Regions from separate parts of the Homo sapiens genome. Here all the other regions are linked to region 1. The links come from fine-mapping of genetic effects on gene expression. A gene starts in region 1. Each other region holds a variant in brackets. All regions are shown on one strand. Distances are between the middles of the regions.

Region 1 (8,182 bases):
AAACCTTGTCCTGCCCACTCCTTTCTGACAGGTACACTCAGTTTCTGTCCTGCTCATCCATTCTCCAACCCTGACTACAGGATTGTCTGCCTTTATTCCTGCGGTGGCCATGCCAGGAACACTGCTCCTTCTTGTAGATACCTCTTTAAATATAACCTACTGTTTCACACTCAGCTCATGCCTCCTTCCAAAAACCCTCCTGGATTCTTCCAGTTCTCCCTACCTTTTTTTTTTTTTTTTTTTTTTTTTCAAGAGACAGGGTATCACTCTGTCACCCAGGCTGGAATGCCGTGGCCTGATGGTCAGATCATAGCACACTGCAGCCTTGAACTCCTGGACTCAAGTAATCCTCCCACTTTGGCCTCCTGAGTAGCTGGGACTACAGGCACACACCACACCGCAGGTCCAGATTTGGCTAATTTTTAAGTTTCTTGTAGTTATGGAGTCTTACTACGTTGCCTAGGCTGATCTTGAACTTCTGGACTCAAACGGTCCTCCCAGCTCAGCCTCCCAAGTAGTTGGGATTGCAGGCATGAGCCACAGTGCCTAGCCCACACTCCCTTTTTAAACTCTTAACACACTAATGGTACCACCTGTGTGGAACCTAATTGCTAGTTAAGTGTCTACATCAGGGTGTCCAACTTTTAGGCTTCCCTGGGCCACATCGGAAGAAGAATTGTCTTGGGCCACACATAAAATACACTAACACCAATGATAGCTGATAAGCTAAAAAAAAAAAAAATGCAAAAAAACTTATAACGTTTTAGGAAAGTGTACAAATTTGTGTTGGGCTGCATTCAAAGCCATCCCGGGCCACATGTGGCTAACAGGCCATGGGTTAGACAAGCTTGATGTATATGTGGGTACTTGGTGTCAATTCCTTGGTGAAATGGAAGCCCCTTGAGAGTAACCCAGGGCCTCATTTTCCTCTGGATGGCCCACAGTGAGAAGCTTCCCTGGTTAGACATGAGCACAAAACAGGAACTCCAGGAATACAAGTGAATTCAAAGTGCGGCAGAATTCGGTGTTCCGCAAAAATGAGAGAAACGGCTGCTTTATGCTATCCACATCCCCTTACTTCAGGCCAGATCTCTCAGCCACACCTGAGAAGGGTGTGTTTCTTCATTCCTGCCAGGTAAGGAGTGAAGAGACCTGAGCCCAGGGAATTCTACCCAAAGCTATGAAACCATGGGTTTACCCTGAATGTTAAGACTGGGAAAGGTGAACTTAGCCCAGCTGCAACTTGTCTCCATTTCCAGGGGCCAGTCACCCCTGCCAATGAGTCCCCACCTTCAGCCTGGAGGAACCAGAGTGGCTACAGCATCCTCTGGTGAAAACAGATGGGCATTCTGAACCTGCTCCACTGCTTGACTCATCCTTCAGACTTTGGGCTTCTCTATCTCAAGTTTTTTAGTTTGTCCAATACCTGCCATACCTAATTCACAGTTGCTATAAGGCAAAAGAGATGAAGTTATCAAGTACAATAAAAATGTCAGGGACACAGCACATGGATCTGCAGGGAGAATAGGCTGGGAGGCCAGATGGGCAGGCTCGGCTCCCCATCAGACAAGCCATGGGCAACAGGCGGTGAGGGCCCTACTTCCAACCCACCTTTGCTTGTCATGTGACCCTCGGTCCCCAACTAGCTTCTCTGGAACTCAATGTCCTCATCTGTAAAACTTGCCTGTGCACTAGATGATCTGGCCTAGGGCCAAATCCAACATGAATTTGAGAACCTTAGAGGATGATAACCAAACAAGTTCCCACTGCATGCTTCACTAGGAGGGATGAAGGTGGGGACAGTGTCCTGAAGCTCCCAGAGTTTGGGGTGTGCCCCAGTGAAGCATCACCAGAGATACAAAGACACTCTCCCTCCAACCAACATCTGTTCTATGGATAAATGCAGACCTGCTGCTCCTCATCCCTGCTCTCTGCCCCACTGTCCAAGCCCCTCATCTGCATACACTGCAAAAGGCTCCCATCTCCTAGCTACCAGCGTCAAGTTTTTTCCACCCCCTTCCTGTCCAAAAACAACAACTCCAAAATCACAGGTTTTCAGAGTCAAGGTCTACCTCTGAAATTAGTTATCCCTTCCACTCCCCCTCTCATATGCACTGCATTCATGAGGAAAGGGCCCAAAGGCCATGCATGGAAAAGAAATGGGGAATGAGTGGGAGCTCTGTTGTGGGGGCTGAAGGAAGCAGAGATGAGGGACATCTGTGAAGTAGAATAGAATGGCATGGAGTTCTCTGGGATTCCATAAAGGTTTGCCTGCTTTCCAAAGTGCAAACCACAAATCTAGAGTTCTACGCATGTGGCTTGTTGGAGCTTCCCTGTGAAACCGTAACCATGGTTTCAGGCAGACTACATCACAGCCATGAGCACAAAAACAACAGGCTCTCTCTTATTTTTCCCTAAAACTCCGTGTCCTTGAAAAAAATATGTAAGGTGATATGCCAAAGTGATCCATGTGCAACCTCTGACCTCTAGGACATTCATGAAGTTAGCTGGTTTTCAATAGAAAGCAATTGCTCTACACCACTTTTGAGGCTTAGATAGCTCTCTCACTTTTTGTGTAGACCAAAGAACCCTGAAAACATATACCTCCAGAGGAACGCTTGTACTTGCTGGAAACATGTAACAAACCTGAAAACACAAAAATCCACATCCTAAATTAATACCTTCCTTCCAAGAAGAGAGAAAAAAAAAAAAAAAAAAAAAAAAACAACCCAAAAACAAACACAAAAAGCAAAATGAAGGTTTGCTTCTCTCTGCTTGTCCAAGTGCCAAGACTGGATGCATTTGGTTTATAGTAGATTGAGACAAGACCTCTTTCCAAATCCTTAATAGTTTAATAATGGAATCAATTAACAACTCAATCTCATACTTAGAAATCGTCTTTTATTGCACAGTATCTTGACAATCAAAACAGAGAAACAATATAACTTTAAATAAGATTCAAAGCACTGACTTCCAATTACCCACAAGCAGAACCCTTCTTAAAATGCAACATTCATTCTGCATGGATGGGCAATGAATTGGACAAAACAAGCTCGACTGATGTTTCTGGGACCATAGAGGAGACATCCTGGAGGAGAACACATTTTTTCTACTTGTATGTCAGAAGATGAGCTAACCACCATGCAAGAGAATAGAAACAAGCCAGCTTCCTCTCGGAGGGAAAAATAAAGCAACTCCTCGCTCGGCTAAGCAGGACAAAGCCAGGACGTGCAAGAAGCCTTCAGTCAAAGGCTCCACGTGCCTTTCCAAGGACGGAGGGACCCACCCACACACAATCACACACAGCCAGCCCACCACGCGCCTGCGGAAGAAAGCCGGGTCCTCGGCCAACCTTCAGCACCAGTGGCCCAGGCTCTCCCAGTTTGCAAACCTCCCGCAGCACCCACCAACTGGAGGGCACAGAGGGAGCAGAGGGCCACATCCTCTTTCCAAGTCTCATCTTCCTCGCCAATGCCTGTTTCTCCCCAACTATGAAGTGAAGTGTACCTCCCCAAGGAAACTGAGACTTACAGGCACACACACCCCAGTCGTCAATAAGTCCCGGAGCCCTACGATCAAGACCAGCGAGTCTTTCCCCGGGACCCCACAACCGGGTTCCCGGAATGACGGGGAGGCGCCGCACTCACCCAGTCCTCGAAGTGGCGGCTCCCGTTCTGCAGCAGCTCCTCAAACTGGATGGTGCAGTTGGCCACGAAGTCGTCGTAGCCTATGGGGGCATCGTGAAAGACAGCCAGCTCGATCTTGCGTCCGTTGCACACATCGGTGACGAACTCGTCGTGCCAGGCCGGGCTGTTGGTCTTCTGCTTGGTGGCCGTTTGGCCGATGCGCGAGTCGTCCACATTGAGGGCAATGTAGGGGTCGAGAAGGAAAGTCTGCGGCCGGGGTCCCACCGCATGGCGCAGCGACCAGGCTGTGGGCTTCAAGCTCACGGCCTCGCAGATTTTGATCTTAAGAAGGCCATTGAACACTACCATGGTCGGGGCGGGGAGTGGGGGCCGGGGTCACTCCGTCTGCCCCGAGGGCAGGAATGAAGAACCGACGGCCCGGCACTCCGAGCCACAGGGACTCTTGGGTCCCCTTTCGCCCCACCCCGCACACTCCCTACACCTTGTGGCGTTGCGCCCTGGCGCGGGCGATTCTCAGCCAGTGCATGTATTTCCTCGCCGGGTTCCTAACGGAAAACAGGGAGGGGGGAGAGCTGGGGGATGTCCGTGTTTGGAGCAAGTCTCTCCCCCCGACCACCAGCTGCACCTCCAGAAGAGAAGACGAGCTGTCGGCTCCGCTGCAAGCCGCGGGGGCTGCCTCGCCGCCTCGCTGGCTCTCCGGCTCCGGACTGCGGGAAAGCGGGCGCCGCGCCCGGCGCTTACCTACCTTTCCGAAACATAATCCCGGGAAATTTCGACTCCGGGAGGGGGATGGGGCGGTGGGACGGGGCGGGGACGAGAACCGGGGGCGCAGATTTCAACCCGGATCCTCTTCGCACACTCAGCGCCTGCCTCTGACCGCGCGGGGCGGGGGGGTGAACGGAGGGATGTTCAGTCTATCCGGAGGGATGCATGTCGAGAGGAAATGGTCCTCCTCGGAGCCAAATTTTTAAAAATCCACAAGCCCCACGGCCAGCCGGGGCCGCCGCCTCCTGGGCGAAGCAGCGCCGCGCCGGAGCCGGCGATCGGGAGGCGCCAGGAGCCCGGAATCTCACATCCGCGCGGGCTCGGAGTCCGGGCGGCCGCCGATCCGGCTCGGGGGCGCAGGCCAGCACCGGGCGGTGCGCAGCGCGGCGGCGGGGCAGGGACTGCGACTCAGCGCGGCCCCACCTCCTGGGCGCCGGCGCCCGCCCTCCGCGCTCCCCGCGTCCCCGCTCTCGGCTGCCGCTCGCTCGCCGCCCGCCAGCCCGCGCTCCCCCGCGGTCTCCTCTCCCTCTGTCGGTGTGCGAGCGAGTCTCCCTCCCTCTAATGCAGGAAATGCGCAAAAGACGTCAGTGTGTGTGAGTGTGTGTGTGTGAGTGTGTGTGTGTGCACGCGCGCGCGCGCACGGCAGTGTTTGGGGAAATAGAAAGTTTTGCCGGTTGGGGGAGCAATACGGAAAAAGTGAGCCGAGGAGACAACGGTGGAGAGCTGGCGAGGCTGCCCGGGGTCGCAGCGGCGGGCGGGTCAGCCGGGGGGCGGGGACCCCGCGCGGGACCCCGGGGTGCGGCGGCGCTGGGCTGGATGCGCGTGCCGGGGGCCGTGGATGGCCATGGATGGGCCCCGCCGGGCCGCGTATCTCTCGGGGACCCTGCGGCCAACACTGTCTTTTAGAGCCGGGGATGGGGGAGTGGAGGGGGCCCTGTTGCCCTAGAGGCCTCGGGACCCTTCCCTTGCCCACCCCCACTCGGGCCGCGGCGGGCAGGAGCAGTCTGCGGAGTTCTGGCCCATCTGTCACTCTGTCCCGGGACGCTGTGATCCACGGCGGTGGGGGAGGGGGAAGGGGGAGGGACAAGCATGGCTCGGGTGAAGTTTTAAACTCTGTTCTTCTCTCTTGCCTTTCTTTGGGGACATTCTCCCCTTTGGGATCTGTCCTGGACTTCGCAGGCTGCGAGAACTTGTTGACAAGTGAAAGCTCGGTAGAGCCCCGGCTTGGTTTGTGGTCTGCTTATTTTTTGCAAAGTGACTGTTCCTGTTTGCGCTGGTCCTTATCGGTGCCCCTTTGGGGGACTTCGGCACTGATCAGCGCGCTGACAGCCGCCGTCCGGGCTGCGGGAAAATGGGGCGCGCCCTCCGGGGGGCGAGTGGCTGTGTCCTTGCTAATTTCCTCCGTAACCTTTAAACTCTCGCTGGAAGCTACCGCCGCGGCTGGTCACGTGAGGAGAGCCCTGGGCTGCTGGGGAAAAATTTCCTCGGCTGGGAGCCGGGACCGGGCCGGCGGCCGGCGAGGGACTGCCCCGCGCCCGAGACTGGGAACCTGGGAGGGCAGGGCCGGAGCGCTGGGCCCCGGGGCGCGGCCCAGCTGGGACACCCGCGAAGACGGCGGCGGTGAAGAGGTCGGCTCCGCTGCCGGGGAGCTGGGGATTATGCAAATGGGGAAAGAAAACCTCCGCCCTCGCCCTTCTGCCAAGTCAAGTCTGGGAATTTGTAGGTATTGTGGTAAGCTGAGTGTTCATCTGGCGGGTCTGGTTAGTGTAAACCAAAATTTAAAACGCGCCTCCCGATCACTTTTTCCTCAGTGGGTAAAGGTTATCATTGCCTGCGGCTTAAAAGCCTAAAAAGGCTTAAAGGCGAGGAAGGAGGCAGTCCCCTGGAAAAACAGGATATCAAGTGCAGCAAACACGTCCCAAAAATGATCCGAAAAGTTCTAGGGCCATCTCCTAAGAACAGGCAAAGCCTTTGCCTGCAACCGCTCTGGAGCTTCCTAATACAGTAATTTCTCGCAGCCTGCCCTGTTGAACAGGGCAGCTGGGTAGAGATGGTGCTAAGATTCAGTCTTCCGTATGATCTAGGTAGCTCCGATGTAAAAAGCCAGGATTTCAATGGTTGTCTTACCCTGTCACTCCCCCAGCTGGAGATACGATATCTTAAAATATGTCCGTTTGACAAAGCACAAGCAGGGGTATCTCATTGCTGTTTAATTTTTATTTCTTTGATTATTACTTTTTTCCCTTTTGCTTCTTCCTTCCACTCTGCTATTCTCATGAAGCCTCTTTCCCCCTTTCCAGGGCATGTGATGGAAGGCAGTGGCAAATATGGCTTGATCTTCTGAAAATGCATTTGGGAAGCAGAGCCAGCACCAAAGTGAGATGAGTGAGATACTTTTCAGAGGCAAAATGTAAAGGGTACCAATAAACGTAATCAAGATAAAGATTTAATACAATTTTTTAAAAATAAAAATGTGAGAATCCAGAATGGACACAATATCCACATTTTAAATAATTTTAAATATTGCACTAAAATATTTATACTACTGAGTTTATTGGCACCTGTTAAATTTTGTACCTGAGCCGAGTGCGTCACTCATCTCACCCTAGTCCTGATCCTGTTGGGAAGTCTGGAAAGTCAAGGATTTCATGGAGTTAGGGATCCTTGACTAATTGGTGCTTCATATGTTCTCATTACTTGCTTTGGGTAAGTCTTGTACAGGCAGGAGCCACCATGCCCAGCCCCCAAATATATTAAATAGGGTCTGTTACCATCTCAGTGACTGTCTTAAAACAACCTACAAACTTCCAGCACCATTTCCTAGCATGCTGGCTCAGCAGACTGTTACTCCGTGTAAATCACCAGACTGCAATTCTCAAGGGCGACCAATGCTTGTCTCCTTTCCATTACAGCAACTCTTTTGGAGCAAGGGTAATAAAAGACTTTGTCAAACAAAATACATGTTTTGTATTGGATTAATGTTTACATAAAAAGGGAGAATGCTGGTAGTCTGCATGCAAACACTGCTAGTTTCCTGCCCTTATTACCTCCTTATTTCTAAATAAATCTCTCGCCTTCCTACTCTCAAACTTGGCCAAATGAAAAGTTGAATTCCCCAGGGACATCATGGAGATGCCAGGTCCAAAATAACCCCCTGCTCCAGGTTTCATGTGAAAAGAAAATCCCAAGGAGGGGGCTTAGACGGTAAAATTCCAATAGGAAATTATTGCCAGCTTCATCCTTCCCTCAGCCCCTGTCTCCAATCCCAAAGGATAAGACAGTGGTTAGCATATACATTGAGTAAAATGACCTTTGGATTCCAACTATGGCCTAGTTATTTCATAATCTTTGTGAGAAGGAAGAAAATGATACAATAATTTAACAAAGATGACCAAAATGGAGCCTTTCTCCTTTCAAAATTAAGGCTTATGAGAAAAGAATAGAACAACAGATGTGGCCAGGACAGGGCGATCAGTGTTGCAATAGGTCTATGGATGGGAGTGGCACAGAAGAAGGATCACCCCTTTGCCTGGGGAGCCTGGGAAGGCATCAACCAGCAGAATCCTTTGAGCTGAGTCTAGGCTTTCCAACAGGAGTTCTTCCAGCAGCAAAGAGGGAAGGGAAGGGTACTGGCTGCAAAAAGTATAATGTGTACAGGTAGGAAAGCCATGACTCTTCAGGTAAGCGGCCAGGTGTGCCCCACTTGTGGCAGGTAGTAACAGGAGATGAAGTAAGTAGGAACCTGATAGTTAAGACCTCAGAGGGCCTGC
Region 2 (8,182 bases), 250 kb before region 1:
GCCCAGCTTTTAGGAAAGCTCACAGGGCTCCAATGTGCTTAAGCTGTGTTTTACCAGATGGCAGGGTGTTTTTTACCTGATTATTAAAGCCATAGTCTACTATGGCCCATCAACAGCCAATTTGGCCTCAGCAAAATAGATTTCAGCTCTCTCAGCACTAGTCTCCTAGCAATCAGCTCATCAATATGTATAATGTTTAGAAGCTGGATATTGATTGTGGAATCTAATGGACTCATTCAGGGTTCACCTTGACCTCTGAGTTACTTTTTTTTTGGAGCTTCCCTGTTTTCCCACTACCAGATTCCAAAACTGGGTTAGCGTGGGCTATGTTGGAGAGCCAGCCAAGAGGTTCCTGAGGCTTGGCCATAAGTCAAGGATGCTCTTGAGCCAGGGTTTGCCCTAGCCAGTGTGAGATGGCCTGGACTACGGCCTGCCCCAGCATTACTCTGAATTAACAAGGAGCTGCTGTTGCCATAGGATACAGCAAGCACCAGTGGTGTGATTAACACCGTAGCATCCAGTGAGTCCTGTGTGTCACCGTGCCTGCTGAAGTGATGTGGAGCCCCTGTCGCTGTCTGTACAATGGTCAACAAAGGCTACCAGCTCTCCATGGTCCACGCCCGGGACCTCACACGTGGACCCCCAGCTCCCCAGGTTCCCCTGACTCCTCCCCCAGGGCTCACCAACACATTCACAGCACATAGGCTCACCCAGCCCCCCTCTCATGGGTCCCTGCCATCAGGAGAATGTCCCATGCAGGGCTGGAGAAAAGGCAGGCTTCTGGGGCAGCGGGGAGACAGCAAGAGTCTTGGGAAAGAGGAGCGCATCTGGGACAGGTGGCCCAGGCAACCGGGGGAGACGGTTTCCAGAAAGGGATTAGTTTGATTCTTTTTCTTCCTGGTGAGATCCCCGAGCACAGCCCACTTACAGTAAGCCCTGGCCAGTTAGTAATCATCAACGCACATGGAGCTAAGACATTTCGCTTCTTGGCAGGGGAAGAAATGCCCAGAGCCCAACCCACCGAGCACGCCTCTGCCTTCTCAAAAGGCTCATCTCATCCAGAGCCAGCACAGAGACATGACTTTTTAAACCATTGTTTCATTTTCACATGTGATATAAGTCTGTGTTCTCCATTACAAATACCAAAAGTGAGAGGTGGTACTGTTAAGAAACCTCATCTTCTCCCCCTGTGATTTGCCCTGGATGGGCACGTGCCACCCCCATAGTGTTCAGCACAGGCAGGGAACTTGGAGTTCTTTTGGTTTCAAGACTTCTCGGTTCGCACGCAACCGGCTTCTTTCTAAGAAACTGTTTTGTCTGTTTGTTTGCATTTTTAAGAGAATCTAAAAAGCTGAAAAGCTTTTTTAGTAACATTTTGGATCTTGCACTTGATTTAATCCCAGCATATTGGGAGGCCGAGGAGGGCAGATCACTTGAGATCAAGAGTTCGAGACCAGCCTGGCCAACATAGCAAAACCCTGTCTCTACTAAAAATACAAAAATTACCTGGGTGTGGTAGTGCGTGCCTGTAATCCCAGCTACTCCAAAGGGTGAGGCACGAGAATCGCTTGAACTCAGCAATGGGAGGTTGCAGTGAGCAGGGATCATGCCACTGCACTCCAGCCTGGGCAACAGAGTGAGACCCTGCCAAAAAAAACAAACAAACAAACAAACAAACAAACAAAAAAAAACTGCCAGGCTACAAGCTCTCATATACAAATGCTCCCAAACTGAGGGGGATATGATGAAAGTGATGAGGTGGGAAGAGGGTTTGAGGATGTATTAACCCATTTCCAAGAAGGAAGACCTGGGCTCTCTAAAACTTGGAATCATTCCTCACTGCCTTGCCTTGTACATTCTACATCACTTTCTGGTCTGTGTGTCTAGGCTTCCCTGAACATCTTACATGGGGTTACCAGACAGGAGATAAAAATACAAGATGACTGTTTAAGTTTCAATTCCAGAAAAAATAATTCTTTATAACTATGTGACATGCAATATTTGGAACATAGTTATACCAAAATATTATACAGAGTTGATCTGAAGTTCAAATTTAACGGTGTCCTGTATCTTACCTGCAACCCTAATCTTGCTGGGTCTTTCGGCCTCATCTTCCCTCACAGCCCCAGCTGCTGCAACCCTGTCCCATGGGGATGGTGACGCCATACCATTGACACAAAATCCTTCCCTGTATCTCAAGTGAAGAAAAGGGGATGCTCTGTCTATGGAGTAGCCATAATATTCACAAAATTAGTATTTTTTAAAGCCTGTGTTATGTGCCTGTTAATGTATGGAGGAATAACTTCTGAACCAAGATGGCCTGAGGGTATTTCTTGCCAGGCAGGGATCCCTTGGAGGACTCCTCATTCACTGACTTATTTAATGAAGTCCCTCTGACTTCCTTCCAATCAACTCCCTCGGGCACTGAGACCACTGAAAACATGACTATTGATAGTGATTCACACTAAAACACATACTGAAGTGAAATCATTTAGACTAGCATTTCCTCAACTCAATTATATTATTTGGAACTAAACTATATTCACGTAGGATCCTCCTGGGGGGAAAATACATAATTCCACAATCAAATAAGCAGGAAGTTGTATGCTATATATGCCCATCTGGGAAAGTCACTGTACATCAGCATACAAAGGCCTGAGTAGTCTTGCAGTCCAGAAACTCCCAGTGCTCACTCAAGCACTATCCAAACTTATTTGGCCACAGAGCCCACTGAACTCCAGTTCCCTTCTAATAGCTATTAACCCTACAGAGAACACTTTGGATATCAGAAATGTAAATATTTTTGAAACATAACTAACCCTTGAGTTACTGTTTCTTTCTAGCCCCTACTTTAGGTCTGGGGGCTGGGTTCTTCAGAAGTCTTCCTAGCCAAGCTCCCAGACCAGTGTAGTCACAGTCTTTCTTGAAGACCTTACCCAAGTTCCAGCTCCAAGAACTTCCCTGACCCTCCTGGCCTCTCCTGCCCACTCCAGCCAGTTCCTCATTTCTGACTTTTCCCCAGCACAGCTTTTCACACATCCCATGTCCTCAGGATGTTAATCCAAATATCCTGATTTGACTTTTGCTAGTATTTTCTGATTACTTCATTTCTATCTTAGCTCCTCAGGCAGACTTGGAGCTACCTGTGGGCAATATCCTCCTGTTGGATCACAGCCCCTTAGTTCAAGATGGGCTGGGCATTGGCAGGCTGGGCATTGGCAGGCTTTTGGTAAGAGCTTATAGGCAGAATTCTGTTTACTGTATGTATTACACTCATGTTCCAATTACTGCAGGTTTCAGGAACAATGGATGTTTTCTAAGAGAGCCGTGAGCTGGCTTCTCTCATGCACTACGAGAGATGAGAGATGAATCCCAAAGTCGCCTTCTGGGCCCATATTGCTACACCTCCTAATCATCACCATGGCTGGGCAAACACTCCAATTCAAACCCAAGTGGGAGTGGGAAAGACCTGAGAGGGTTGGAGATTTTTATGAGGGTGAAATAATTTCCTAGTTTGTAAGTCAAAATTCCCAAGGACTGTGGGATCTACAACCTAGAAATTCAGATGATTTCAGTTCTTCTGTCCTGGAAAATACCACTTCACTATCCTAAGGCAAAGATGGCCATGTACTCTTATAAAAAGTTATTGCAAAATGACCTGCTCTTAAACTCTGAAGTCACCATACTCTTTTACCGCACCTGGCTGGACTTCAGGGTTTTACAGACATCGTGTGTGAGCTTCATCACAAACCAAGGCCAGCACGGTACAGACTTCCAAGAATTCAACTGCATTTCCATATTCTTCAGGGAACTTTAATCTTCTACCCCAAGACTGAGTTAAAAAGAAAAATCTGAGCAACAACAGGAGAGTCTCTAAGATACATAATGGGAAATGTAAACACATTGTACGAATCAGCTGTGCACACACTTCATCGTCCCAGCAGCATATTTCTTTCCATCTCAGGTGAATTATAAAAAAATCCTTCAAACTTTACACTCACAGCTTTAAATAGCCTTAGTTTCCAAGGTGAAATAGACTGATCTTCTAAATGACAAGTTAAAAATCTATCAGCCATACGTTGATTTTTGTAAATCGGTTCTTTTCTAAAAGGCACAAGTCTTTCCAAGAAGGCCCAGGGCAAACTTTATTGGATCTAGTTCCTAAAAATATTACATGAGAAATATGTGAACAGGCTAATACCTTACCTAGATGAAAACATGACCAGGTCGGAGCGTTTGGCCTTGGGTAAGAA[C/A]CATTTTAACATTCTGAAACACTAATGCCTTGCTTGTCCCCATCTCAATCCTCAAGCAACCGATTAGGAGTACTCAACACAGACGGTTTTGTAAGCACAATTTGTACTAAGTTCTGGATTTTGTAGCAATTTTTCTGCATCTCAAATCTCAATGAGATTTCCAGTAAAATGGATTCCAAACATCTATATACATAGTAGAGTTTATGATATCAAATCATTTCTGCTCATCAGGACTCAGCCCAAATGTCAATTCATCAGAATCTTTCCCTAGCCAACCCAGCGAAAGCATCTCCATCCCACATATGTGAGGCATGGTTCTGTACCATGTTAATTACCCAGTTTCTTTCCCAAAGTCCTTACAGTACCTGTATTGCCTTACTCATTTGTTAAGTGTGTATTGTTCATCTCTCCTCAGCAGAAAGCAATCTAGTTCTCCTTGCAGTCAGGCCTTCTGTCTGGTTCAATCCTGTATCCCAAAATCATATGCCTGGCAGCATAAATTTAGGAATCAATTACATTTAAAAAGATTTTTACAGTGGTAAATTACACAAACGTGGTTAAAATGGTAAATTTTAAGTATATAATTCATTAGTATTAAGTACATTCACACTGTTGTGAAACCATTACCACCATCCATCTCCAGAACATTTTCATCTTCCCAAACTGAAAATCTCTACCATTGAACAATAGTCCTCTATTCTCTCCTCCCTCTAGCCCATGGCAACCACCATCCTACTTTCTACCTCTATGAACTTGACTATTCTAGGACCTCATGTAAGTGGAATCATAGAATATGTGTGCTTTTGTGACTGGCTTATTTTACATAGCATAATGTTTTCAAAGTTTGTCCATGGCGTAGCATGTATCAGAATTCCCCTCCTTTTGGGGGTGAATAATATTCCACTGCATGTATAGACCACATTTTGTTTATCCATTCATCTACTGATGGACATTCGAGTTGTTTCCACCTTTTGGCTATTGTGAATAATGCTGTTATAAACACTGGTGTATAAATATCCATCTGATCAGTTCCTGCTTCCAGTTCTTTGGGATGTATACCTAGTGTTGGAATTGCTGGATCATATGGTAATTCAATTTTCTGAGAAAATGTCATGCCGTTTTCCACAGGGGCTGCACCACATTACATGTGCACTAGCAACAAACAACAGTTTCCATTTCCCCACATCTTCATCAACGCTTGTTATTTTCTGGGTTTTTTCCAACTGCATTTTATCCGAAGCAACCGTTCCCACTTAAATCTGTTATAGATTAGCTGATCTAGTAAGACACTGAACTGACTTGGTTTACTGTGCAATATATAGTCAGAGGTCACAAGCAGCTAAGTAAAAGTAACTTATCTTTCATAGTTGAGCCCGGGCTAGTAGAAGAAAGATTTATTTCTGGATATTTAGAGCCCCTTCATGCTAGAAATATAACCAAGAAATGAAAAGAGACACAATTGCCGCATGGCTTTCTCCCCAGGTGGTGTCAGGCTTTTCTCCACACTGCCCTGGTCAACAGCAAGTGGAACTTCAGGCAGGAATGCTCTGCACAGCACTACCTACAGGCCCAGCCACTTCTGAGAGAGAATTCAGGGCCTTCGGGAACTATGGTGTTGGCCATTAAAACTTGGAAGGGGCTAGGCACAGTAGCTCATGCCTGTAATCTCAGCACTTTGGGAGGCCGAAGCAGGCAGATTGCATGAGCCCAGGAGTTCAAGACCAGCCTGGGCAACATGGCAAAGCCCCGTCTCTACAAAAAAATACAAAAATTAGCCAGACATGGTGGGGCTCACCTGTGGTCCCAGTCACTTGGGAGGCTGAGGTGGGGAGATCATCTGAGCCTAGGGAGATTGAGGCTGCAGTGAGCCATGATTGTGCCACTGCACTCTAGCCTGGGCAACAGAGTGAGACTCTATCTACAAAAAAAAAAAAAGAAAAAAAATTTTTTAAAAAGACTTGGAAGGAAGGAGGAGTGGCAATTATAATCATCTGAATGCAATGGCCTGGCTTTATCTTTGCCCAACACTGAAGAAGCCTATAAATATCAAAAGGGGGAAAAAGTTTAATTTCCAAAGACAAAGTTTTCAGACCTATGTGACCTCTGAGAGAATAAGGCCATCTGAGAAAACATTTCCTGAAGGTCAAATCCAGGCTTAGGGAATGAGGCCACCAGCCAAAGCTCAGTCTCCTTTCACTCAAAACGGCTGCAGTCTTCCTGTCCTGCGGGACTTGGATTCTAAAGAGAAGGCGCTATGGCCTATTGGACAGTCTCCCCAGCCTCTAGCACAGGGCTTGGCACAAAGCCAGGAATGAACATGTAAGTCCTGAAACAATGAGTTGGGTGTATGGCCTAGCTAAGAAGATTGGGGGCTGCTTTCTTTTTGGGACATTCCACCCTGACTGATGCCTTTTTCATGGACCAGGCCTTAGAGTTCTGGCAGACCCAAGACAGGGGTCCTTCACAGAAGTCCCTGTGATCATCATGGCATGGCCTCATGCGAGTTCAGCCAAGGCAGGCCTTCTCCACTCCCTCCTCAGAGCCACCCTAGGAAATCCTGATCTGGTTACAATAGTATTCAAATCCCTCTCTCTACTCCTCTATTTCTATGTCCCACCCCTCTCCATCTCCCACACTGGTACTCTCTTCCCACAGTAACAGTAGTGGTAATGATAGTAACAGCCAGCTTCATGTTTTATATAGTGCTTTCAATTGCACTGGTTTATTAGATCCTCAGCATAACCAGATAGGAAAGCCCAGGGGACATCTGACTTACTCAGAGTCCTCAAGCAATGTGTGGTGGGACCAAGCTTCCAGACTCCAGCGACCCAGTCCTCTCTGAGTAGCTTTCTGTTCCTTAAGTGTTATCCAAGTATCTCCTAGTGTGAAAGTCAAATGCCCTACCCTTTGCTGCTGCTCTCTGTTACCCACTGAGAAGACAGACAGCTTCCAGCAGGTAGATCCTAATCACACTAACATGCTCAGACTGAACATAATTTCATGTGTTTGTGGCTGTTTTAAACTATGCCCACAAATTCTCTCTTACTCCTCCCTTCAGAGGTGAAGCTTAACTCCCCTCCCTCCTAGTGTGGGCTGGACTTAATAACTCGCCTCTAATGAATAAATAAGGTGAAGCGATGAGTTGTGATTTTAGAGACTAGGTCATAAAAGCCACGTGGCTTCATCTTTGCTTTTTGTTTTTGGGAATTAGACTATTACCAGTCATCTCTATCACGAGGGGCCTGCAAAAGGGAACCACGCCTGTGCCTGGTGTGCACTTGCCCAACTGCGTCCTTATTGACTGAGATGAAACTGCTGGGCAAGAAGAGGTATATACTTCTGAAATGACTATCATAGAGATCGCCCAAATCACACCAGAGGTTGGGCAAATCAGTATCCTACCAGCAGTTTATCCGGGTGTCTCATCATGCCCTTGTCAGCAGTGATTATTAAAAGCCACTTCTTAACTCAAATAATTTAATTTCTTGTGATGGAGTTTCAGGAAGAACCATGGAAAGATATGTGAGTGGCTAAGAAAACATTTCCTCTCAAATCATAAACCATATTGCTGTTTTCTCCATCTCAGTACCCCCCACACTGACCTTGACTCCTCTTACTTCAGCTGGGCTGCAACCAAGGCAGGAAACAAATAATCTCTGTCATGAAAGCCACTGAAATGTAGCCATAAAAAATGGGGTGCCATCTCCTCTTGCACCTCTAAACATCTGGCAATTATCATGGGCAAAGTGCCTTTTACCCCACTAAAGATACTCAATTGCATTCTGTTCTGTAACACTAACTATTCTTTCATCCATTTGACCTACATAAACTTTCTTCAAATTTTAAAAATAAAAACAAAAAATAAAGATGATGTATGTCTATTAGCACAAAACAAGATGGGCAACCTGACCAAAAAAGGGGCCCTGATT
Region 3 (8,182 bases), 190 kb before region 1:
CAACCCAAGCCTTGCCTCTTTCTTGAAGTTTTCCTGGGTTATTCTGGTCCCGACTTATTCCTACTTGGAGAACTCTTGGTAACACCTAATCAAACACACAATGCTTTGCATTGTTCTCTAATGCTTTCATCCTGCAAGTCTAGGGTGCCTAATTGAATTGCAAGCTCCTTGAAGGCAAAGGGGTTTTACACTTCTTGTGAATGCCATCTCCCATTTTCTACTTCCTTCTCCACTCTCCATTCCCCAAACCCAGCACAGACACAAAGCTGGGCACATTTGTTGAAATGCACTGGTAGCCTGGATGCAGTGACTCACACCTGTAATCCCAGCACTTTGGGAGGCCGAGGTGGGTGGGTCACATGAAGTCAGGAGTTCGAGACCAGCCTGGCCAACATGGCAAAACCCTGTCTCTACTAAAAATACAAAAATTAACCAGGCATGGTGGTGCATGCCTGTAGTCCCAGCTACTCAGGAGGCTGAGGCAGGATAATCACTTGAACCCAGGAGGCAAAGGTTGCAGTAAGCCGAGATCCTGCTGCCACACTCCAGCCTGGGCGACAGAGCAAGACTCCGTCTCAAAAAAAGAAAAAAAAAATGAATTGCTAACTATTGGTCATTTGAATGAATGGTTCTTTTTAATTTTCTACTAACTAGAAGACATTGGATTATTAACGTAGAATTTAGAAGAAAAGAGGTAAAATTCTTATGAATTGAAGCTCCAGTGGGGCTTGAATCTGAGAGAACCCGTCGATATGTATCCTGCCCACTGGCTAAGACAGAGTTTCAAGAGAAAAACCCCTTTCACTTTGATTTCAGCCCTGGAGGTACTGCTCTAATGCCTGCTATGGACTCAGAGTCTTCACATACAAAACTAACATCTCTAGCAAGGAGGGCAGGTCAGTAGGAAGAATTATTAACCTGCTGGGATTTGAGTCAGGTCTAGTTTCAGACCAAGACTTAGCCATGGATCCACATTACAGACAACCTGAGAAGGATCCAACCTTGAGCTCGGACCAAAAGAGCTTTTATTTCTAACACAGTGGAAAAGGGATCTGCTTATTTATGAAGGAGACTCTGGTCACCTTTGGATTCAAAGCTAAGAACTTTGGCTTTATATTTCTATAAAAAGCTTTCTGAAGAAGAGAACTAAAATAAAAAGATCGAACCAGGGGTGGAGTGGGGAATCACTGCCATGTGGCAAACTCATTACTGGGGCCATGAATGGAAGCAGGACCTGGATTGTGGCCTGGGGTCTGGACCCAGCAGGGTCTCATAATCAACCTTTTGGCCTGGAGCACATCATCTGACCTCTCAATTTCACCATCTCCCACATGGAGGTAATACTGCTGGGCACTTGGTAAAGCTAAGAGCTCTACACACATGTTATTATTTCAGAACCAAGCGAAGCTGGTTTGATCACGTCTGCCTGTGCAACTTGAAAAAAGTCCAGAAGAGGTTGCAAAGTTGAGTTAAGATTTCTAAAATATCCCTTCTGAAAGGTTAAGGGATTTGATTGATTCAGCCTGAAAAAAGAGATATTGAAAAACTGTCTTCAAATATTTAAAGGCCTTTTACCCAAGGGCTGGTGAGAGGATGGGGACCACATGCTATGGTCCACACTAAGCAGGGATGGGACAAGCCCAGGCTCTGACAAGGAGAAGCCTCTAGCATTAAGGGCCACGGAATGCAAATGAGTGGCTCAGGGATGCTAGAGAATGTCCTTCCAGGAATTACTTTACTTGGGAGAGGATAAGGAATAAATGGAGTGACAATAGGCAAAACTGAGGCAAGGCCTGAACTGTGCAGAAAGCAATCGCACAGTCCCTGCCAGATAGATTACTCTGTTAAGTCGCCTCTTTGGTACCTGGCTCTGTTCTTGGCCCTTGTGAACATGTCCCACCCCAGCGTCAGAAACCTGTCCTTGAACAGTTTCCCTGAATAGCCTGCCAGATGCTTCTTCAAGGGCACTGGGTAGAGCTATGCCAACCTCTCTGCCCTCAGGTCTCCAAGGCTTCATGATATTTACTGATCATCTCTTACATGCGAGGGCACTGTACCAAAGCACTGTTCTTATGACAATCCTGGCCTAGCACCTACCATAGGAACCATTATCCCTGTGTTGTGGGTGAGAAATCTGAGGCTCTAAGCTACTAAACACTAGAGCCAGGATTTCAATCCAGGTCTGAAGGACTCCTAAGGCTGTGCTCTTTCTCCTCTATCTGTTGAGTCCCACAGAGAAGACTGACCCCTTTCAGCCTGTGGCTGCAGAAAGAAACAGGGTGCCTCCTGTTCCCTGCTCTTCTGCTTCCACAATATGCAATCCCTCCAGAACTTGACTTATCTGCATCATTTGTGAGGTACGTGTTGCAAAAATCATTCCTATTCCTTTGTATCCTCTGTATTTTGTTGGAGAAACAGTTTGGTGATCCAAACATACCAATGGGCCTACTTGTTATTGCTGTTGTTGGTTTAGATGCTGAAGAACTCTCCCAGGTGAGCATGACACCTAGGTGCAAGGCATGGGAAGAAGAACCTATCAGTCCCCAGGTCAGGCGCCGACCGTCTCTCATCGGTAAGCCTGTGAATCATGGGGCATTGCCACATTATTAGAAAGAATAAGAAATAATATGCAAATTACATCATATGAAGGGAAGAAATACTAACAAATGGGCACAGCAGGAAACCATCATTTGCACAGGTGAGAATTACATTGCTGTTTATGCCTCTGTTACCTGGGCTAATTGTGCTTTGATTTAAGCATCTGGAGAGCCTGGAGAGCCACCCTTACCAGAACCCCCTGTGATTATTACTTACGATGCAAGTAAAACATGGACTGAGACTGGAGCTTCCCATAAGAGCATTTTGAGCAGGTTTGCTACTTGGTATAATGTAGGTAAAGTGCCTAGCACCATACCTAGCACCAAACGAGTCCATTTCTTGCAACTCCTTTTTTCTGTACATATTAGCCAGCCCTCAGCCACGAGCTCTGACAGATGTCTATTCAAATTGTACCAAAGGATAAAATCACATGGCCGGAAATGACCTTAACTGTCATCTAGCCTGACCCCCTTACATCTGGGGTTAGGATGGCTGGTTTAGCCAAAACACACACTGGCCAGATTCCACTATAGTGAACTGCACAGGACATGCAAGCAGTGGAATTTTATTAGACAGTTAGAAATCACATTAGCTCCAGCTCCAGCAGACGTAAACGCCCAGGCTTTCTAACAGCATATGAGCAAGAAAAAGAATCCTTCGGCGCATCCTAGAAGAAGGGGGTGTAGTCACACCATCTCACCCCCACACCTCTCTCTGAGCTCCTTGGAATTTGCATGTGTTGTAAACTTTGTGCAATTCCCATGAATGTATTTTTTTCCATTGATGGGGCTGCAGCATTTGAGAGATGGGAGCTGAAGGGATGCTTGATGGCAGAATAATGGAGTGGTGAAACTTCAGCTGTGCCTCATTTCAACTCTCTCCCTTTCACAGAATGCAGAGTTAGGTATTTTCACTAAAAAAAAAAAAAAAAATACTTAGTCCACAGTCTGTAAATCCAGGAGGGTGGTTGTGACAACTTGCTTCACCCCAGACCCATCTCACGTGGTTTAGGTATGAAATGTTGTGGTTTCTCATTCTCTAGGGCCTCCCCTTGCCCTCTCAACTCTTCCAAAACCCCCTCCAGGCTAGGAACCCTCACAGTCCCAGCAACAGGACTGGGAGAACAGATGTGTATAACACAAACAACAAGAGCAGCTTCTCAGAACGGATTATTGAAAGTCCTACCCACCATCGAAAGAAAGGATCCCAAGTCCAAGAACAGCAATTTAAAAAAAAAAAAAAAAAAGTAGAAAAATGTCTTCTTTTCTTCAGAGCAACACATGCTAGCACTTTTCAGACTCTGGCATGTGTCAGCATTTCTAAAGTAAACTCTATTTTCTTTAGATGAAAGAGATTTAAAAAATAGACTCAGAATTTAGCCCAGTGAAAATTGCTTTGGCTATTCACATGCAATAAGCTGTAGAAGCAAGCAGAAAAAAATCAATTGCTTCTGATTTATTTATTCATTCATTTGTCCATCTCCTTTCCCTCTAATGTAAAAAAGGATGTCTTCTATAATTTTGCAAGTCATTTATCTTTTCAAAGAAAGAGAAAATAGTCCCAGCCTCCCATTGGTTGCTCAGCATCTTGGCACAGGAAATACATATTTAATTAATTATCATATTGCACACAGATTATGTAAGGAAAAAAGGGGATTGATTTTGCCCATCAAATGTTTCGCCAGTGTCTAGAATCAGGAGGCCACACTGCAAAACCTTAAGTCAAGTCTGGTGAATTTGGATCACTTTCTATGTTAAAAGCAAGGACAAGGCTTCACCTCACTGCTTGCTCTAATTCTTAATTGGGGCGGTGGGCACACTGGTGCTCATTTAATTTGTCTTTA[T/A]GCCCTTTTGTAGGTCTTAAATATTTCATGTGAAATATTGTTAAATCCTCAAATCTTCTACAACAGGTTCTATTCTGGGCAGTTCAGAGCTGAGAGCAGAGAAGGGAAGTTGGAAATGCCAAAATGTAATTGCAATAAAGAGCAGGAAATGTAAGCAACCAATTTTGGAAGGCTGTTTAAAGTTTTAAACCTATGCCAAATAATTGGGATCTATTAAAAGAGGGCCTAATTCTATTATAATCCCCATATACACACAATTATTGAATTCTTCCGAATACCTGTTGAGATTGGGTGATAAATTAGCTGAATGGAAATCATCAGGCACCACTGTCAAGCACATCATTTGACTAACTGAATATGTAATCCTTCCTTCTATCACTGAGCCTTAAACTAGAGACTGTGTGTGGGATTGTGACTTTGAGCTTGTGATCCCCAGTATTCTGGGGAGATGTTGTGAAAGGCCCAAGTGTTCCAGGCAGGAGAGCTGAGAGAGCTGAGTGTCCATTTTTCCTTTTGGGACACAGTCCCCAAACACTGTTTGTTTCTCACTGCCAAGAGGAACTACACATGGTCTTCCAATATCCCTGCCATGGCATTAAAGCCAACTGTTCTGTCCCCCTGCCCACAGATGGAGGAGTAGGAGAGAAAAGAAGGCCACAATAACTACATTTCAGTCCGAATTCCAAATCTTTCTTAGAGCTTAAGTTGGTTGTTATCTCCTTGTTCCTGTTTGGATAAGGTTTTATTTTCTAGGCTTCCCTTCTTCCCTTGACTGCTCAGTCCTCAACACCCAGCAAACCCTTCAAAGGTCTTAAGTGTAGTTAAGTGAGCAAAGAAAGGATTGAAAGAAGAGGGTGTAAGAGGAAGAGGGTGTAATACGCCATCTAATCAGTCAGTGGGGAGCAGATGTTCCCTCACCCCATTATTTCTCTTTAAGAGCAGAGCTTTTGTCTGTGTAAAGAACTGGTAAAAGAAGTCCCACTTCTATCAAAGCTCTAAAGAAGATTCTGAAGTTTGTCACCTTATTCGTTTCATTTCTGGATGCCGTTAGACCAACTGGTTTTACTTCCTTCCCACCACACACACACAAACCCCACGCAAGCCTCCTGGGAGAGGCTGCCCTGCCACTGAAGCCTGCCTTGCACACAGCGTGCAAAAACGCCCGTTTTATTGGCCTCACTTGGTAAGTCCAAAATCTTCCCTCTGCTCCACCAAAGTTAACAGATGGCTGGTCCCTTTTGGTACACAGGCGTAAGCATCTTCAAAATAACCTTTTCCTTTAAAGGATGCCAATTAATTAAATGTCACTATAATGTGTTCCGGCCAAGGGGGGGAAAGAAGAGACCCAGAAGGCAAAGGGCCAATGGAAGAAAACAGGGATGAGAAGTCACGCTCTCCTACCTTCACCCGACGACCCTGAGAGATCGATGATCACATACACTCTTCCTTCTGGCTCCAGATCAATCTGCAATTAAGAAAATGACAGTGACTCTGTTAGTGCATTGTGTGGGCAACCTAAGAGTTCCACAACATTTCTACCCCAAACTGCTAAAACCTAGAGACACAGCTCCATGTAATTCACCAACCTACAATGTGTTGAGTGCTAGGTGAGATGCAGACCTGGGAGGACTGATGCATACCCCATAGGTAGCACCATCCCAGTGGTTCTCAACTGGGGGCAATTTTGCTACACAGGGGATGCTTGGCAAACATCTGGAGGCAGTTTTGCCATGATTGGAGAGAGAGAGAGTGCTGCTTCTGGCAGCTAGTGGGTGGAGGCCAGAGATACCATTAAACATTCTACAGTGCACAGGATGACCCCTCGCAACAAAGAATCATTCAGCCCCAAATGTCATCAATGATGTTGAGGTTGAGAAAGCCCTATGTTATCCCATTTTACAGATATGGAAATTGTGCCCAAATTCCAAGGTAAGTGGTAATGCTGAGATTCAATGCCAAGCCTGTCTTGAGAAACCCATGTTCTTTATACCACAGAAACTGCTCCCAGGGGAAATAAGAGAAGCAGGAAGACACTACTCCTGCTTTTATGGCGTTTATCATCTCATTGTGGAGTTAAAAAATGGGGAACAATGCTGAATCCAGCTTAATGATGAAGGACAGAGAAGAACTGATAAAGTATCTGACGAACCTGAAATCAGTGTAGAAGACGGAAGGGAAGAGGGAAGGGAAGGTATGCAAGGCGTAAGAAACAGCACAGGCACCCTCACTTCCTCCCTCCCCACCTCAAATCCAGCTAACTACTTATAATATACAGAGACAAGGTGGTGAAATAATTGGGTGAGACAAAAGCCAGAGGGCTGGGCCTCTTGTAGTTAAAGACATCTTTGCAAGGACTGAACTATCCTTACAGAAACTGTGTTCTCTCTATAAGAGAGTAGTAACTCTGGAAACCCTGGATCACCAAGTCCCCCTGCTAGCCTCTCCGCCTCCACAATCCCATCTGTCTACACAGAGCTTTCATTGGTTCATAGTGCCAGGCTCTCTCCCCAACAAGCTGTGAATATCTTGAGGGCAGGAACCACTATCCCCCTCCTTTTCCTTTTTCACTGTCCCCAGCAAAGAGCAGGCAAGCATTTAGCAAGAATTACTTCAGAACAGTCAGTCTAGTGGATATCTCCTCCTCCTTCAAAGTCAAGGTCAATTATCACCTCCTCTCTGAAATCTATCCAGATATGCCCAGTCAGAATTAATTAGCCCCTCATCTGTGTTCCCACAATACACCAGACACATCTTACTCATGGCTCCTGCGATGGTTAATATTGAGTGTCAACTTGATTGGACTGAAGGATGCAAAGCATTGTTACTGGGTGTGTCTGTGAGGGTGCTGCCAAAGGAGATTAATATTTGAGCCAGTGGACTGGGAGAGGCAGATCCATTCTCAATCTGGGTGGGCACCATCTAATCAGCTGCCAGCGTGGCTAGAATAAAGCAGGCAGAAGAAGTTTGAAAGACTAGGCTTGCTGAGTTTTCCAGCCTTCATCTTTCTCTTGTGCTGGATGCTTTTTGCCCTCAAACATCAGACCCCAAGTTTTTCAGCTTTTGGACTCTTGGACTTACACCAGTGGTTTGCCAGGGGCTCTTGGGCCTTCAGCCACATACTGAAGGCTGCCCTGTCGGCTTTCCTACTTTTCAGGTTTTCGGACACGGACTGGCTTCCTTGCTCCTCAGCGTGCAGACGGCCTATTGTGGGACTTCACCTTGTGATCGTGTGAGTCAATTCTCCTAATAAACTCCCCTTCATATATACATATATCCTATTGATTCTGTCCCTCTAGAGAACACTGACTAATACAGCTCCTATTAAGTTGTAATACATTGTCCATCTACCTCTCTGTCCTGATAGACAGAAAGTATGATAACCAGATTTGCATCCCTAGTTCGTAGCTCACTGTCTCTTAGGAAACACCCAGCACACACTCGTGGAGGTGGGAAAAGGCTCTGTGTTCAGAACTTCCAGAGTCTATTCTGGGAACATTCACCCTCCCAAGGCTCTGTCCCCAGGAAGGAAGGCAGGCATGTCATCTCTACTAAAATGACATTTGAAAAAGGGTAGAGGAAAGATGAGGCAGCTATACCATGAGCACCACATGTCCCCATGAGACAAAGCGACCAGCTGGAATGGTGTTCTCCAAACTCTCCCAACGTCTCACCCCACACACAATCCAGGAGGCTCCCAGAGTCACTCCTGACCCCATCTTGTTGCCTGACTCAGCCTCTAAT

Direction of the effects. Alleles are on the strand shown, and positions count from the first base shown. SD is a standard deviation of normalised expression in the study named. Not every link is listed here.
For the expression in spleen of the gene that starts at base 4,421 in region 1, allele A in region 2 goes with a higher level than allele C (small effect, 0.31 SD a copy in GTEx).

What was found. PIP is the estimated chance that this variant, and not a neighbour inherited with it, causes the effect.
Region 2: its variant is fine-mapped to the expression of PRKCE in spleen (GTEx, PIP above 0.99).
Region 3: its variant is fine-mapped to the expression of PRKCE in whole blood (TOPMed, PIP 0.98).

What each region holds. Positions count from the first base shown.
Region 1 is chr2:45,647,914-45,656,095 of GRCh38, reverse strand. It overlaps PRKCE (protein kinase C epsilon), which reads right to left and starts at 4,421. Exons shown (of 15, transcript NM_005400.3): 1 at 3,648-4,421. The coding sequence starts at 3,995. LOC102724965 (a long non-coding RNA gene) reads left to right here and starts at 4,881. Exons shown (of 2, transcript XR_005647119.2): 1 at 4,881-6,131; 2 at 6,713-7,369. RefSeq lists enhancers at 3,743-4,363, 4,852-5,146 and silencers at 4,522-4,991, 5,162-5,261, 5,892-5,991.
Region 2 is chr2:45,897,391-45,905,572 of GRCh38, reverse strand. The region is part of intron 2 of PRKCE (protein kinase C epsilon); the gene reads right to left. Among named protein-coding and RNA genes, the nearest start is that of PRKCE-AS1, 230 kb to the right of the region's middle. RefSeq lists an enhancer at 910-979. The variant C/A (reference allele first, on the strand shown) is at 4,254.
Region 3 is chr2:45,840,724-45,848,905 of GRCh38, reverse strand. It overlaps PRKCE (protein kinase C epsilon), which reads right to left. Exons shown (of 15, transcript NM_005400.3): 2 at 5,843-5,906. Among named protein-coding and RNA genes, the nearest start is that of PRKCE-AS1, 170 kb to the right of the region's middle. RefSeq lists a silencer at 8,015-8,134. The variant T/A (reference allele first, on the strand shown) is at 4,442.